Linked DNA regions of Homo sapiens. The protein of the gene in region 2 interacts with the protein of the main gene of each other region in a biochemical or structural test. Each region holds a gene or a part of one and is shown on either strand. Other genes may lie near its edges.

What was found. Proteins that work in one complex are often made in the same cells at the same time.
Region 1: the proteins of HSP90B1 (region 2) and PTPN11 form a complex in vitro, tested with the Homo sapiens proteins (one large-scale study listed by BioGRID).
Region 3: the proteins of HSP90B1 (region 2) and UBASH3A form a complex in vitro, tested with the Homo sapiens proteins (one large-scale study listed by BioGRID).
Region 4: the proteins of HSP90B1 (region 2) and SUPT6H form a complex in vitro, tested with the Homo sapiens proteins (one large-scale study listed by BioGRID).

What each region holds. Positions count from the first base shown.
Region 1 is NC_000012.12:112,425,447-112,428,946, forward strand, and holds part of PTPN11 (tyrosine-protein phosphatase non-receptor type 11), read left to right. Parts: intron 1-3,500. UniProt on the Homo sapiens protein: Acts downstream of various receptor and cytoplasmic protein tyrosine kinases to participate in the signal transduction from the cell surface to the nucleus. Positively regulates MAPK signal transduction pathway. Dephosphorylates GAB1, ARHGAP35 and EGFR.
Region 2 is NC_000012.12:103,943,910-103,947,409, forward strand, and holds part of HSP90B1 (endoplasmin precursor), read left to right. Parts: intron 1-2,708; coding exon 2,709-2,787; intron 2,788-2,876; coding exon 2,877-3,032; intron 3,033-3,401; coding exon 3,402-3,500.
Region 3 is NC_000021.9:42,417,402-42,420,901, reverse strand, and holds part of UBASH3A (ubiquitin-associated and SH3 domain-containing protein A), read right to left. Parts: intron 2,502-3,500; coding exon 2,293-2,501; intron 1-2,292. UniProt on the Homo sapiens protein: Interferes with CBL-mediated down-regulation and degradation of receptor-type tyrosine kinases. Promotes accumulation of activated target receptors, such as T-cell receptors, EGFR and PDGFRB, on the cell surface.
Region 4 is NC_000017.11:28,689,705-28,693,204, forward strand, and holds part of SUPT6H (transcription elongation factor SPT6), read left to right. Parts: intron 1-377; coding exon 378-525; intron 526-1,216; coding exon 1,217-1,359; intron 1,360-3,500.

The DNA of each region.
Region 1 (3,500 bases), 8.5 Mb from region 2:
AACAAACTATAAACTTATTCCCCAAGAACAAATATAATAATTTTTCTGGAGTAGCAGGTAAGAAAGATATAAATTTATATGTATACAAGAAACTGAAATTAGACTTTATACATTTAAAGGTTACAAGTGCAGTTTTATTACATGAATGTATTATCCAGCATTGAAGTCTGGGCTTTTAGTGTAACCAGCACCTGAATAACATACATTGTACCCATTAAGTAATTTCTCATCCCTCAAACCCCTCCCACCCTGAAATTAGACTTTGGATCCCTAGTTTAAATTCCACCCCTCTCTTTTTTTGAGACAAGGTCTCACTCTGTCACCCAGGCTGGAGGGCAATGTTGCAATGATAGCTTACTGTAGCCTCAACCTCCTGGGCTCAAGGGATACACCCTCCTCAGCCTCCTGAGTAGCTGGAACTGCAGGCGTGCACCACCACATTCAGCTAATTTTTTGATTTTTTTATAGAGATGAGGTCGGAACTCCTGGGCTCAAGCGATTCTCCCCAAGTGCTGGGGTTACACACATGGGCCACTGCCCCCAGCCTAAACCTCCTTTCTCAGTATAGCAGCCTTGAGATGAAGTTCCTGAAATTACTGGCCAGCTTGACTGTTTCCCCACATCACTGGAGGAGGGGGATGCATAGATAAAACAAAATATTCAGCATCATTGTATTTTCTTTTTGTTTCATCAGCATCTTTTTTTAAAACTCACTTGACATAAGTCCCTAGCCTCAAAGAGTAAAGCCTTTGCAGAATCTGCATTCAGATTTCGGGTGTGATTTCCTGACAGATAGTTCAGGTTTGTAAACTCTTTTTTTTTTCTTTGAGACAGAGTTTCACTCTTGTAGCGCAGGCTGGAGTGCAGTGGCACCATCTTGCCTCACTGCAACTTCTGCCCCCTTGATTCACGCGATTCTCCTGCCTCAGCCTCCTGAGTAGCTGGGATTACAGGCATGCGCCACCACACCTGGGTAATTTTTGTATTTTTAGTAGAGATGGGGTTTCACCATGTTGGCCAGGCTGGTTTTGAACTCCTGACTTCAGGTGATCTACCTGCCTCAGCCTCCCAAAGTGATGGGATTACAGGTGTGAGCCACCGCAGCCGGCCAAAACTTTGTTTTTTTTCCTCTTTTTGTTGCTGAGAAATGTAAACTCTTACAGACACAAATTATGTCTCCCATTTTTTAAAACCCACTCAACACAGGGGTCATGTGTAATAGGCCCTGGAGCTTATTTTAGACATTGATTTGAGGCTCTTTTCCCCAAGTGCTGGTTTGTGTGTGTGTGTATGTGTGTGTAAGTCTTTCTATGAGATGAGTGGTACCTACCTGGGCTGTGTGATCTTTTTTATTTTATTTATTTTATTTTTGTAGATACGAGGTCTCACTATGTTGCTCAGGCTGGTCTTGAACTCTGGGGCTCAACCTATCCTCCCTCCTTGGCCTCCTAGAGTGCTGAGATTACAGGTGTGAGCCACTGCACCTGGCCAGCGATCCTTAATAAATATAGATAATGGCCGGGCGTGGTGGCTCACACCTATAATACCAGTACTTTGAGGGGCCGAGGCTGGCAGGTCACCTGAGCTGAGGAGTTTGAGACCAGCCTGGGTAACGTGGGTGAAACCCTGTCTCTACAGAAAATAGAAAAATTAGCCAGGTGTGGTGGTGCATGCCTGTAGTCACAGCTACTTGGGAGGTTGAGACAGGAGAATTGCTTGAACCTGGAAGGTGGAGGTTGCAGTGAGCCGAGATCGTGTCTTTGAACTCCAGCCTGGGTGACAGAGTGAGACCTTGTCTCAAAAAAAAATATAGATATAGGCTGGGCGTGGTGGCTCACACCTGTAATCCCAGCACTTTGGGAGGCCGAGGCGGGTGGATCAGGAGGTCAGGAGATCGAGACCATCCTAGCTAACATGGTGAAACCCTGTCTCTACTAAAAATACAAACAATTAGCCAGGCCTGGTGGTGGGTGCCTGTAGTCCCAGCTACTCGGGAGGCTGAGGCAGGAGAATGGCGTGAACCCGGGAGGTGGAGGTTGCAGTGAGCCGAGACTGTGCCACTGCCCTCCAGCCTGGGCGACAGAGCGAGACTCTGTCTCAAAAAAAAAAAATCTATATATCTATATATCTATATCTATATAGATATAGATATAGATAATGCCAGATGATGGCTGGTTAGAAGGGATTGTCAGGGGCTGGCAGGTTTTGCAGGTGTTAGAATGAGCAAGATGAGGAGAAGGATGCTTACTTCCCTCTCCTTGTAACTCTCTACCCCCTCCCCTCAGTGTTTTTTTATTTTTATTTTTATTTATTTATTTTTTTTGAGACAAGGTCTTGCTCTGTCACCCACACTGGATTGCAGTGATGCAATCATAGCTCATTGAAGCCCAAACTCCTGGGCTCAAGTGATCCTCTTGCCTCAGCCTCCCAAGTAACTGGGACCACAGGTGCGTACAACTATGCCCAGTTAAGTTTTTCATTTTTTATACAGACGGGGTCTTGCTATGCTGTCCAGGCTGGACTTGCACTTCTGGCTTCAAGTGATTCTCTTGCCTCAGTTTCCCAAAGTGCTGGCATTATGGGCATAAGCCACTGTGCCTAGCCCATCAGTGTCTTTTTATCCTTTACTCCTATCAAAATTCATTCACTCAGCAGCCATTGATCAAGTGCCTACTATATACATGTTGAGGACTGGAAATTTATTTGTCTCTTCTCATCTTATCTGGACCCTCTGTGTTAATTGTAATTAACTGTAATCATTCTGTATTAATTGTAATAAACTTGTTGATAAACTCAAATGAGGCCATACCGTTTTGCCACTTCCCCTCCTTCCAGGTTATATGGATGTACTTACATTGCAGGTTTCATTTGTTGGTTCAGTTTTTAAACTAAGCCCTATTGTGTCAAATTATGCTAGGTGTGAGATGGGGAGTTCAAGCTGTGTGTTGTCTTTTTTTTTTTTTTTTTTTTTGCCTCACTTACTAATATACAAGCGCTTATAACCTTTGAGGCTGGCCCTATACATTAAGATTTTTATTAATTCCACTGTTCTTTATCTTCTCTTACTAAGTTCTCAGGGTCGAATGAACTCTAACTGCTCCTTGCTAGTGATAAGCAAGTTGCAAATTACAGAATTGTCAGTGATTGAATACACGTATTAAACCTGTAACTGGGAAGCATTTTTGGTAATTATGAATACTTTTGGAAAAAAAAAAGCTATGGAAGGAAAGTTTAAAATCTACGAAAGCTCAAGTAGATGGTCATGGAATAGCTATTTCAATTTCTAACTATATATTACTTATTTATTTATTTATTTTTGAGACGGAGTTTAGCTCTTGTTGCCCAGGCTGGAGTGTAATGGCGTGATCTCAGCTCACTGCAACCTCCACCTCCCGGGTTCAAGCTATTCTCCTGCCTCAGCCTCCCGAGTAGCTGGGATTATAGACATGTGCCACCACGCCAGGCTAATTTTGTATTTTTAGTAGAGACGGGGTTTCTCC
Region 2 (3,500 bases):
GCCCCTTACCCAATCTTTGTTTTGGAGATAATACCAGCTTCAATACAAAGAGTAAAATTGCCTTAAATGTCTACCACTGTCTACTATAAGGTAGACAACAAGTTTACGAAGGGATTTCTCCTACATTTGATTGAGAAAGAAAAGGTCTTTGACTCATGATTTTCTGATTTTATTGTATTTGATATGTAAATGGGAATTTTCTTAATGTGTTATGCATAGTCTTTACTTTTGCATTGGATTATATGCTTAGCCTAATATCTGAATTTATTTTACATTTTTAAATGTAATAGCTGCACGAGGTTAATGACAACATTCCTCAAGTGAGTTAAGTCCATTTCAAATCACGTCCCCCACACCCCCAAGCATTAAATTATGGGTATCCAGATAGAATGTCTCATAAAGTAGACGGTACAGGACCTGTGAATTAACAGTATTTGAACTCAAGGGCCTATACCTGGAGGTATAGTGAGTCTTTGGTACTCTTTATTTTCAAGAAATATAGTATTTCAAGTTTATGTTTTAATGTCACAGCAATGATCTTGAAAATGACTTCTCCCCTACTTTTATTCTCTCTTCTTTCACCTGGAGTATGTTTCTGATATGCTATCTAGTCATCATCCTTTTTTCCCAAGGCCTAGCTTAAGGATTCTTTTTTTTTTTCCCCCGAGACAGAGTCTTGCTCTGTCACCCAGGCTGGAGTACAGTGGCGCAATCTCTGCTCACTGCAACCTCCGCCTCCTGGGTTCAAGTAATTCTCCTGTCTTAGCCTCCTGAGTAGCTGGGATTACAGGCACCTGTCAGCACACCCGCTAATTTTTGTATTTTTAGTAGAGACGGTGTTTCACCATGTTGGCCAGGCTGGTCTCGAACTCCTGACCTCATGATCCGCCCTCTGCGGCCTCCCAAAGTGCTGGGATTACAGGCGTGGGCCACTGCGCCTGGCCAGGATTATTATTCTTAAAGCCTTTTCTCACAAATGTAGTCTCCATTGTTGTCACAATTCTAAAATTCCATATATGTCTTTTAACTATAAATTTCATGCAGAGAATAGTGTTCTGTTTATCTGATATCCCATTGCAATAGTACAAGGGCCATTTAAAACATGTCCACCTATTAATTTCAGGAAATGATTAATAGGAAGTTACCTTGCATCCAACAAACATGAAGACTTACTATGTCCATGCACTGATGGTCACAGGTAGACATAACTCCTGTCTTTTCTAACATTTAGACTAGTGAAAATGACAAATCAAAGCCAGGCATGGTGACTCACTCCTGTTGTCACTCAGGAGGCTGATGCAGGAGTATCAGTTGATTCCAAGAGTTCGAGGCTGTAGTGTGCTGTAATGGCATTGCACTCTAGCTCTAGCCTGGGTAACATAGCCAGACTCCGTCTCTTTTTTATTTAAAAAAGAGGAAAAAAAGCAAGTCATAATCCGAGCCCTACATAGATAATGGGTACACCAGGATAGGGAAGGATGTGGTTCCTCCCTGTCCTCAGAGCTTTAAACTAGAGAAGAGAGAATAATCACAACCAACAGTAAAAAGCTAAGGATTTTGAAGGTATATTCAAAATGCATTTGGAACTGAGCTCAGATAAAGTTAATTTTTCTTGGAATCATTGGCGAAGGCATCGTGGAGAAGGTATTATTATTGGAGCACAATCCAGAGGCTACATAGATTTTTCTGAACTTGGGGAGGCAGAGCTACAATTACGGTAGTAAGAATAAACTAAGAGGGAACAAACAGGACATTAAATCAGTTCGTCTGTTCAGCAGTGCTCCAGGTACTTGGGACTCATCAGTAAATAAAATAGTTCCCTTCATTTCATTTTTCATCTAACCGTGTCCACTTGCTCCCCACCCCACCTCCCCGTTAAAAGGGAGCAATACAGGCTGGGCACATGGCTCACGTGTGTAATCTCAACACTTTGGGAGGCTGAGGTGAGAGGATCACTTGAGGCCAAGAGTTCAAGACTAGCCTGTGCAATATAGTGATACCCTGTCTCTATAAAAACTAAATAAGGAAACAGTGCAGTCATCCCTTTTTGTCCATGGGGTGTTGGTTCCAGAACATCCCATGGATACCAAAATCCACACATAGTCAAGTCCCTTAGGTAAAGTCGTGCCGTATTTGCATATAACCTATGCACATCTTCCCATGTACTTTAAATAATCTATAGATTACTTTTAATACCTAATGCAATTTAAGTGCTATGTAAATAGCTATTATACTGTATTGGGTTTTTTATTTTTTTCTTGTTTTGCCCTTTCTAATATTTTCAATCCGAGGTTGATTGACTCTGCAGATAAAGTAGACTGGAAAAGTACAGTCGTCCTTAGGTGTATGAGGGAGATTGGTTCTAGGACCCCTGCCAAAATCCACAAATATTCTAGTCCCCCAGTCTGCCCTGTGGAACCCGTGTATATGAAGAGTGGGAGCTCTGTGTGTGTGGATTCCACATCCCAAGAATACGGTATTTTCTATCTGAGTTTGGTTGCTGAACCTGCACATACGGAGGGCGGACTGTATTTATTGGAAAAAAAATAGCATATAAGTTCAAACCTGTGGTGTTCAAGTGTCAATAGTACATTTTGATTTTTTTTTTTTACCAAGAGTTGTTCTGTGTAATTATGAAAGAATAAGGGAAACGTATGAACCCTAAAATTGGATATGTTTTGTTAATGTTCATTTTTATCTCTTAACAGTTACTATGCGAGTCAGAAGAAAACATTTGAAATTAATCCCAGACACCCGCTGATCAGAGACATGCTTCGACGAATTAAGGTAGTATTAAAGCAGTCCTCTTGCTTGTCTTTTAATTTGAGTACTTTGTATCTTTTAATATTAATCTAGTGCATCTTCTTGCATTTCAGGAAGATGAAGATGATAAAACAGTTTTGGATCTTGCTGTGGTTTTGTTTGAAACAGCAACGCTTCGGTCAGGGTATCTTTTACCAGACACTAAAGCATATGGAGATAGAATAGAAAGAATGCTTCGCCTCAGTTTGAACATTGACCCTGATGCAAAGGTTTGTATCCCCAACCTTCCCGCAAAGGCTGGCTGGCTTTCTTTGTTTCTGTTCTTTCAGAATAGGCCTCTCATGATTGAGGGATGTAGCTTTGCGACATTTGCCTAATTTCTACCTTTTGAAAGAATTTTATTGAATGTTTGAATCCCTGTAGTGTCAGGCACTGCACTAGAAACTAAGTCCTCCTTTTACGTCCTCTTTCCTTTTTGCCTGCCTCCTTTTGTTAGCTTGGCTGTTCATTCTAGTTAAGAGGATTTAGTCTGTGGTTCTGAATAAACAGAAGTGACATTAATTATGATTTTATACATATAAATGAGCAAAGTGGAAATAAATCCAAGGCATTAATGGGCCCATAAATGTTGTGTTTAGGTGGAAGAAGAGCCCGAAGAAGAACCTGAAGAGACAGCAGAAGACACAACAGAAGACACAGAGCAAGACGAAGATGAAGAAATGGATGTGGGAACAGAT
Region 3 (3,500 bases), on a different chromosome or scaffold from region 2:
AGTCTAGGTGCTGCTGGAAGGAGATTTTACAAATGTGACTAGAACCCCTAATCAGTTGAGCTTAAATTAATCAAAAGCAAGGTTATTCTGAGCAGGTCTGACTTATGCAGTTGGAAGGCATTTTTTTTTAAAAACTTAGGCTTTCCTCACACTCAGAGACTTCAATAGCAGCTGTGTCTGTGACTGCTCTCCCATCACCCGGGTGGTCCTTCCAACTGCCACATGTGGACAACAAGCTTCAGCTTGCCCATGGGTTTTCAGCCTAAGTAGGCTCCTCCCTTCCTGCCTGTCTGCCCTTGCTTAGCTAGCCCCAGTAATTCCATAAGGCAATTCATTGTAGTAAATCAATATAGATGTGTGTATACATATATACCTTTCCATATATATATGTGTGTGATACATGTGTATATAATATAAAATACTATGTATGTATAGTCAGCCCTTTGTATCTGGAGGTTCTGCATTTGTGGATTCAACCAACTGCAGGCCAAAAATATTCAAAAGATTAATCAATTAAAAAATAGCAATACAATTTAAAAAATACAAATAAAAAACAATACCGTATAACAACTATTTGCATAGTATTTATACTGTATTACATATCACAAGTAATCTAGAGATGATTTAAAGGATACAGGGTGATGTGCATAAGTTGCATGTAAATACTACAGCATTTTATATCGGGGACTCGAGAACATGAGGATTTGGGTATCTGTGGGGGTCCGGGAACCAATCCCTTGCAGATAGCAAGGGACAACTGTACATATACTTATATGTATTATATATTGTATGAAAGTGACTGGTTCTGCATCTCTGGTTAAACTTTTACTAAATTTGGTATCAGGAATGGGGTGCTACTCTAACAAACAGTGGATGTTCTTCAACTTCAGATGGGGTTATGTTCCAACAAACCCATCATAAATTGAAAATGCATTTAATGCACCTAACCTACTGAACATCACAGCTTGGCCTAGCTTACCTTAAACACGCTCAGAACACTTACAGTAGCCTATGATAGGGCGGAATAATCTAACACAAAGCCGATTTTATAATCAAGTGTTGAGTATCTCATGTAATTCGTTGAATGTTGTACTGAAAATGTAGCACAGAATGATTGTATGGGCACTTGAAGTACAGTTTCTATTGAACCCATATCACTTTCGTAACATTATGAAATCCTAAGCCAAACCATTGTAAGTTGGAAACCTTCTGAACTTAAAATGTGGAAACAACTTTGGGACTTGGCAGCGAGTAGAGGCTAAGAGACTTTTGAGTAGCACAGCAGAGAAAGCCCAAATCACCATGAACAGACTGCTAGAGGAAATAGGGATGCTAAAGGTGAATCCTCCGGGGAGAACTCAGAAAGGAATGTGACAGGTGTTCCAGGAAATCGGAGCAAGGAGGATCCTTCCCATGTGTGCCAGAGAGTTTAATGAAATTGTCCATGGAGAGCAGGACTTGTAAGCGATGATGTTGGTCACATAGCTAAGGCTATTTCCAAACAAAGTGTTAAGTGTATCACCTGGTTTCTTCATGTTATTTATAGTGAAGCGGGAGAGGAAAGAGATAAATTGAGGGAAGAACATCGAACAAAAAAGAACCAGTATCTGATGATTCTGAAAATCCTTAGCCTCACCAGATGATGCTAAAAGGTGCTAAAATTAAGAGATTCTTCAGCTGATGAAGAAGCAACTCACCAGGAGCCCTACAGCTTCAAGGAAATCACTCCCACCAACAACTGTGTATGCTCAGGCGAGGGTGTGAAGCCTCAGTGGGGAGCCCAGCCCTGGCAGGCACCTTGATTACAGCCTTGAGACCCCGAGCTGAGGACCCAGTGAAGCTGGACTCTGACTCTCAACCCATAAATACCATAAGATAATAATTGCACTTTGTTTTAGTGGTAATTTATTATACAGTCATAGAAAACTAATAATACGACCTAGGACTTTACATTTCATACACGGAGCAGAAGAATAAATAAACCCAAGCTCAGGACCTCTGAGTATAATTTATTATGTGTGTGATAAAGAAGTAGTATTTTGCAGTAATTTGGGGATTACCATCTCAAATTACTCTAATGCAGAGTAATTCATTCTTTTTTGAATGTTATCATCAGAAAACCAGGGACGAACCAAGATGTTTACTATATACCTGCAGGAATAATTTTGTCAGCATACAGAATGCAATTTTACCAATAATGGAATGGTCTAGAAGCACACTGTTGGCAGGTGGGCACTCTCACACAGTAACTCAGAGAGAGATGACGGGGCTGCAGCCAGAGGCAGCACTCACCTGTGCTTCACCCACGTGTCAGACTCACTGGCTCGATCCGTGTAGTTTTCCGGCAGGAAGCCCCGGCAGCCCGTCCGCTGTGAGATCCCAATCACCCAGCCCTCGCTGGCTTCGTCCTGCTGCGTGGGGTCCACAAAGATGTAGTCACCAGGACTTAGCGTCAGCTCATCCACGTTCTGGGGTTTGTACTGGAATAGGGCTCTCAGGGTCTAGAAAAGAGGCAAAGGGGTTTCACGTCTCGAGCAAAGATTTACATTGGAAAATGGCAGCAATAGGAGGCCTATCACCTGCCACCTCCTGCTTTCTGCCCCTCCAATGTGTTCTGTGTCTCCAAGACTCCATCCAAAGCTTTGTCTGGCAATATATAGCACAGAATGTAATGAAACGCAGCATAGAATTCTTTGGATAGATTTAGAAATACATTTTGGGGCCAGGCGCGGTGGCTCACGCCTGTAATCCCAGCACTTTGGAAGGCCGAGGTGGGTGGATCACAAGGTCAGGAGTTTGAGACCAGCCTGGCCAATATGGTGAAACCCCGTCTCTACTGAAAATACAAAAATTAGCTGGACATGGTGGCGGGTGCCTGTAGTCCCAGCTACTTGGGAAGCTTGAGGCAGGAGAATCACTTGAACCTGGGAGGCGAAGGTTGAAGTGGGCGCAGATCACTCCACTGCATTCTACCCTGGGTGACAGGGTGAGACTCCCTCTCAAAAAAAAAAAAAAAAAAAAAAGAAAAAAAGAAAAAAAAAAGAGATACATTTTGGGATCTATCCATCATCCATCCATCTAGGTACTTTTTTGTCTACAAAAGATCTGAAGGCATAAGCAGACTTTCACATCCGCCTTCCTCGGTGTGAGGTTATTGACACCTCATACGATACAGAACATGGTGGATTCATTCACACGTGCTCTCTGGGTCTGAAAGGAGCATCACACACTTCGTTTCTAAACCCATCGATTCATGGGCAGGAAGTCCCAGAATGAGGTTTCACTCAAATCATTCTTTAAAGTGAATTGTGCTCACTTTGGCAGCACATATAACTAAAATTGGAATGCTGCAGAGAAGATTAGCATGGCCCCTACATTTAAAAAATAAATAAATAAAAAAGAATTAATAAGCAAAACATGTATTCATAGATCTTTACAATAGTCCTTTCCTTTCTGTCTTTTTTTTTTTTTTTTTTTTTTTTGCCAGTCTCGCTCTGTTG
Region 4 (3,500 bases), on a different chromosome or scaffold from region 2:
GGGCTCCTCAAGGAAGTTTTTGGTCTGCTTGTTAAGGAGCCAGGGAAGTCTCAGAGATTGCCACCATAATTACAAGGGGCAGGAGGGAGTTGGGAGGATGTCAGTACTACAGTTTCCGTCTAGGCCCCCTTTCCTCCTTTCTAACAGCACAGCTTTGCATTTATCTGTGGACTCATTGGGGTTCCATAAAGCATTTTGATTACAGTGTTTCATGGCTAAGTTTGAAAACCACCTTTAGTAAATGTTGATGGAAAGAAAAGAAGAAGCCCTGACAGAAACTTACTCCCATCTGGAGAGGCCCGCCCCTTCCACGGGACTCCTTGAGGCTCAGGTTGGGGGGCAGCTGCAAGGCTCTTCTTGATGGGCTTCTTCCCCAGGGCTATGGTGACAAACACATCACACTCTATGACATCCGGGCAGAGCTGAGCTGTCGATATAAGGACCTCCGGACAGCCTACCGCTCTCCCAACACAGAGGAGATCTTCAATATGTTAACCAAAGAAACACCAGAGACCTTCTACATTGGTAAATTCTGGGGTCATTTTTTTATTGGGGGCAGGAGGTGTGTTTACTGTGTACATTCAAACCAAGCAGCAGTTCCAACAGATTGAGGCAGGTTTGTGTTGTACATGGGGAAGGCCAGGAGAGCATTTTAAAAGACTAAAGAGTCCTGGACTGGAAATCAAAACTGAATTTAAGGTCAAATGTGCTTCCAGTGTGCTATGGAATCTTCATGCAGTTAGTCTTCTTATAGGCTTTATTTTCCCCTATCATCAAATCAGGGGAACGGCCAGGCACAGTGGCTCATGCCTGTAATCCCAGCACTTTGGGAGGCCAGGGCAGGCAGACTGCTTGAGGCCAGGAGTTCGAGACCAGTCTGGGCAACATGGTGAAACCCCATCTCCACTAAAAATAAAAAATTAGCTGAGCGTGGTGGTGGGCACCTGTAATCCCAGCTACTCGGGAGGCTGAGGCAGGAGGATTCCTTGAACCTGGGAGGCAGAGGTTACAGTCAGCCAAGATAGCACCACTGCACTGCAGCCTGGGCAACAGAGCAAGACTTCATCTCAAAAATAAATAAATAAATAAAAATCGGGAAGAGTTCCCTCTTCAAGGATGGGAAGGAAGTCAGATATTCTGTCACTGAAAGGCTGGTGGAAAGAAGTGCTCTCCACATTCTCTGAGCCTGCTCCCCATCCTCTTTTCCTTCTTGCAGGAAAGCTCATCATCTGCAATGTCACTGGCATTGCCCACAGGCGTCCCCAGGGTGAGAGCTATGACCAGGCGATCCGCAATGATGAGACAGGGCTGTGGCAGTGCCCCTTCTGTCAGCAGGACAATTTCCCTGAACTAAGCGAGGTGTGTGCTGCAGCATTATCCTGCTCAGTGGATTTCCTTGGTTGAATGATCTCGGTGCCTAGAAGGGAATCAGAAATGAGGGTGTTCTAGATCATTCTCTCACCAAACAAGTACACAAAGAAGGAAGACGGACGGGAAACACACAGGTTTAGCATGAAGTCCCTTCTGAGAAGGCTGACATAGCTGGGCACGGTGGCTCACGCCTATAATCCTAGCACTTTGGGGGCCAAGGTGGGCGGTTCATCTGAGATCAGGGGTTCGAGACCAGCCTGGCCAAGATGGTGAACCCCCGTCTCTACTAAAAATACAAAAATTAGCCAGTTGTGGTGGCATACGCCTGTAATCCTAGCTACTCGAGAGGCTGAGGCAGGAGAATGACTTGAACCGAGGAGGCGGAGTTTGCAGTGAGCCGAGATCATACCACTGCACTGCAGCCTGGGTGACAGAATGAGACTTCATCTCAGAAAAGGAAAAAAAAAGGCTGACTTAGAAACTTCTTATGGTCGGCCGGGCGCAGTAGCTCACGCCTGTAATCCCAGCACTTTGGGAGGCCGAGGCGGGCGGATCATGAGGTCAGGAGATCGAGACCATCCTGGCTAACACGGTGAAACCCCGTCTCTACTAAAAATACAAAAAATTAGCCAGGCACGGTGGCGGCCACCTGTAGTCCCAGCCACTCAGGAGGCTGAGACAGGAGAATGGCGTGAACCCAGGAGATGGAGCTTGCAGTGAGCCAAGATAGCAGCATTGCACTCCAGCCTGGGCGAAAGAGCGAGACTCCGTCTCAAAAAAAAAAAAAAAGAAACTTCTTATGGTCGCTGGGTCAAAACAAAATGGCAGACAGGCATGGTGGCACGTACGTATAGTGCCAGCTACATCAGAGGCTAATTTGGGAGGATTTCTTGAGCCCAGGAGTTCGAGGCCAGCCTGGGCAACATAGCAAGACCCCATCTCCTTTTTTAAAAAAAGGGAGGGGCTGGCCGGGCGCGGTGGCTCACTCCTGTAATCCCAGCACTTTGGGAGGCTGAGGCGGGCGGATCATGAGGTCAGGAGATCGAGACCATCCTGGCTAACACGGTGAAACCCTGTCTCTACTAAACAATACAAAAAATTAGCCAGGCATGGTGGTGGGCGCCTGTAGTCCCAGCTACTCGGGAGGCTGAGGCAGGAGAATGGTGTGAACCCGGGAGGCGGAGCCTGCAGTGAGCCGAGATTGCACCACTGTACTCCAGCCTGGGCGACAGCGAGACTCTGTCTCAAAAAAAAAAAAAAAGTGGGGAGGGGCCAGGCCGGGCACAGTGGCTCATGCCTGTAATCCCAGTACTTTGGGAGGCTGAGGCAGTTGGATCACCTGAGGTCAGGAGTTCCAGACCAGCCTGACCAACATGATGAAACCCCATCTCTACTAAAAATATAAGGATTAGCAGGGTGTGGTGGTGAGACTCCTATCTCAAAAAAAAACACAAAAGGGAGGGGCCTCAGTTGCAGCTAAAGGGATCTAAGTTGGATAAACATAAAAGAGGATGGGGCACAGTCACACCAGTAATCCCAGCACTTTCAGGGGCCGAGGCAGGTGGAGTGCTTGCCCAGGAGTTCAAGACCAACCTGAGCAACATGGCAAAACCCTATCTCTACAAAATAAAATTAGCCAGGCTTAACCGGGTGCAGTGGCTCACGCCTATAATCCCAGCACTTTGGGAGGCCAAGGTAGGTGGATCACGAGGTCAGGAGATCGAGGCCATCCTGGCTAACACAGTGAAACCCCATCTCTACTAAAAATACAAAAAATTAGCTGGGCATGGTGGCGGGCGCTTGTAGTCCCAGCTACTCGGGAGGCAGAGGCAGGAGAATGGCGTGAACCCGGGAGGCAGAGCTTGCAGTGAGCCAAGATTGTGCCACTGCACTCCAGCCTGGGCAACAGAGCAAGACTCTGTCTCAAAAAAAAAAAAAAAAAAGATTACCCAGACTTGGGGGCGTGCGCTTATAGTCCCAGCTACTCGAGAGGCCAAGGTGGAAGGATCACTCGAGCCTGGGAGGTTGAGGCTGCAGTGAACCCTGATTGCACCACTACACTTCAGCCTAGGCAAAAGAGTGATACTGTCATAAGAAAAAGATGGCTAGGTGTGGTGGCTCACGCCTGT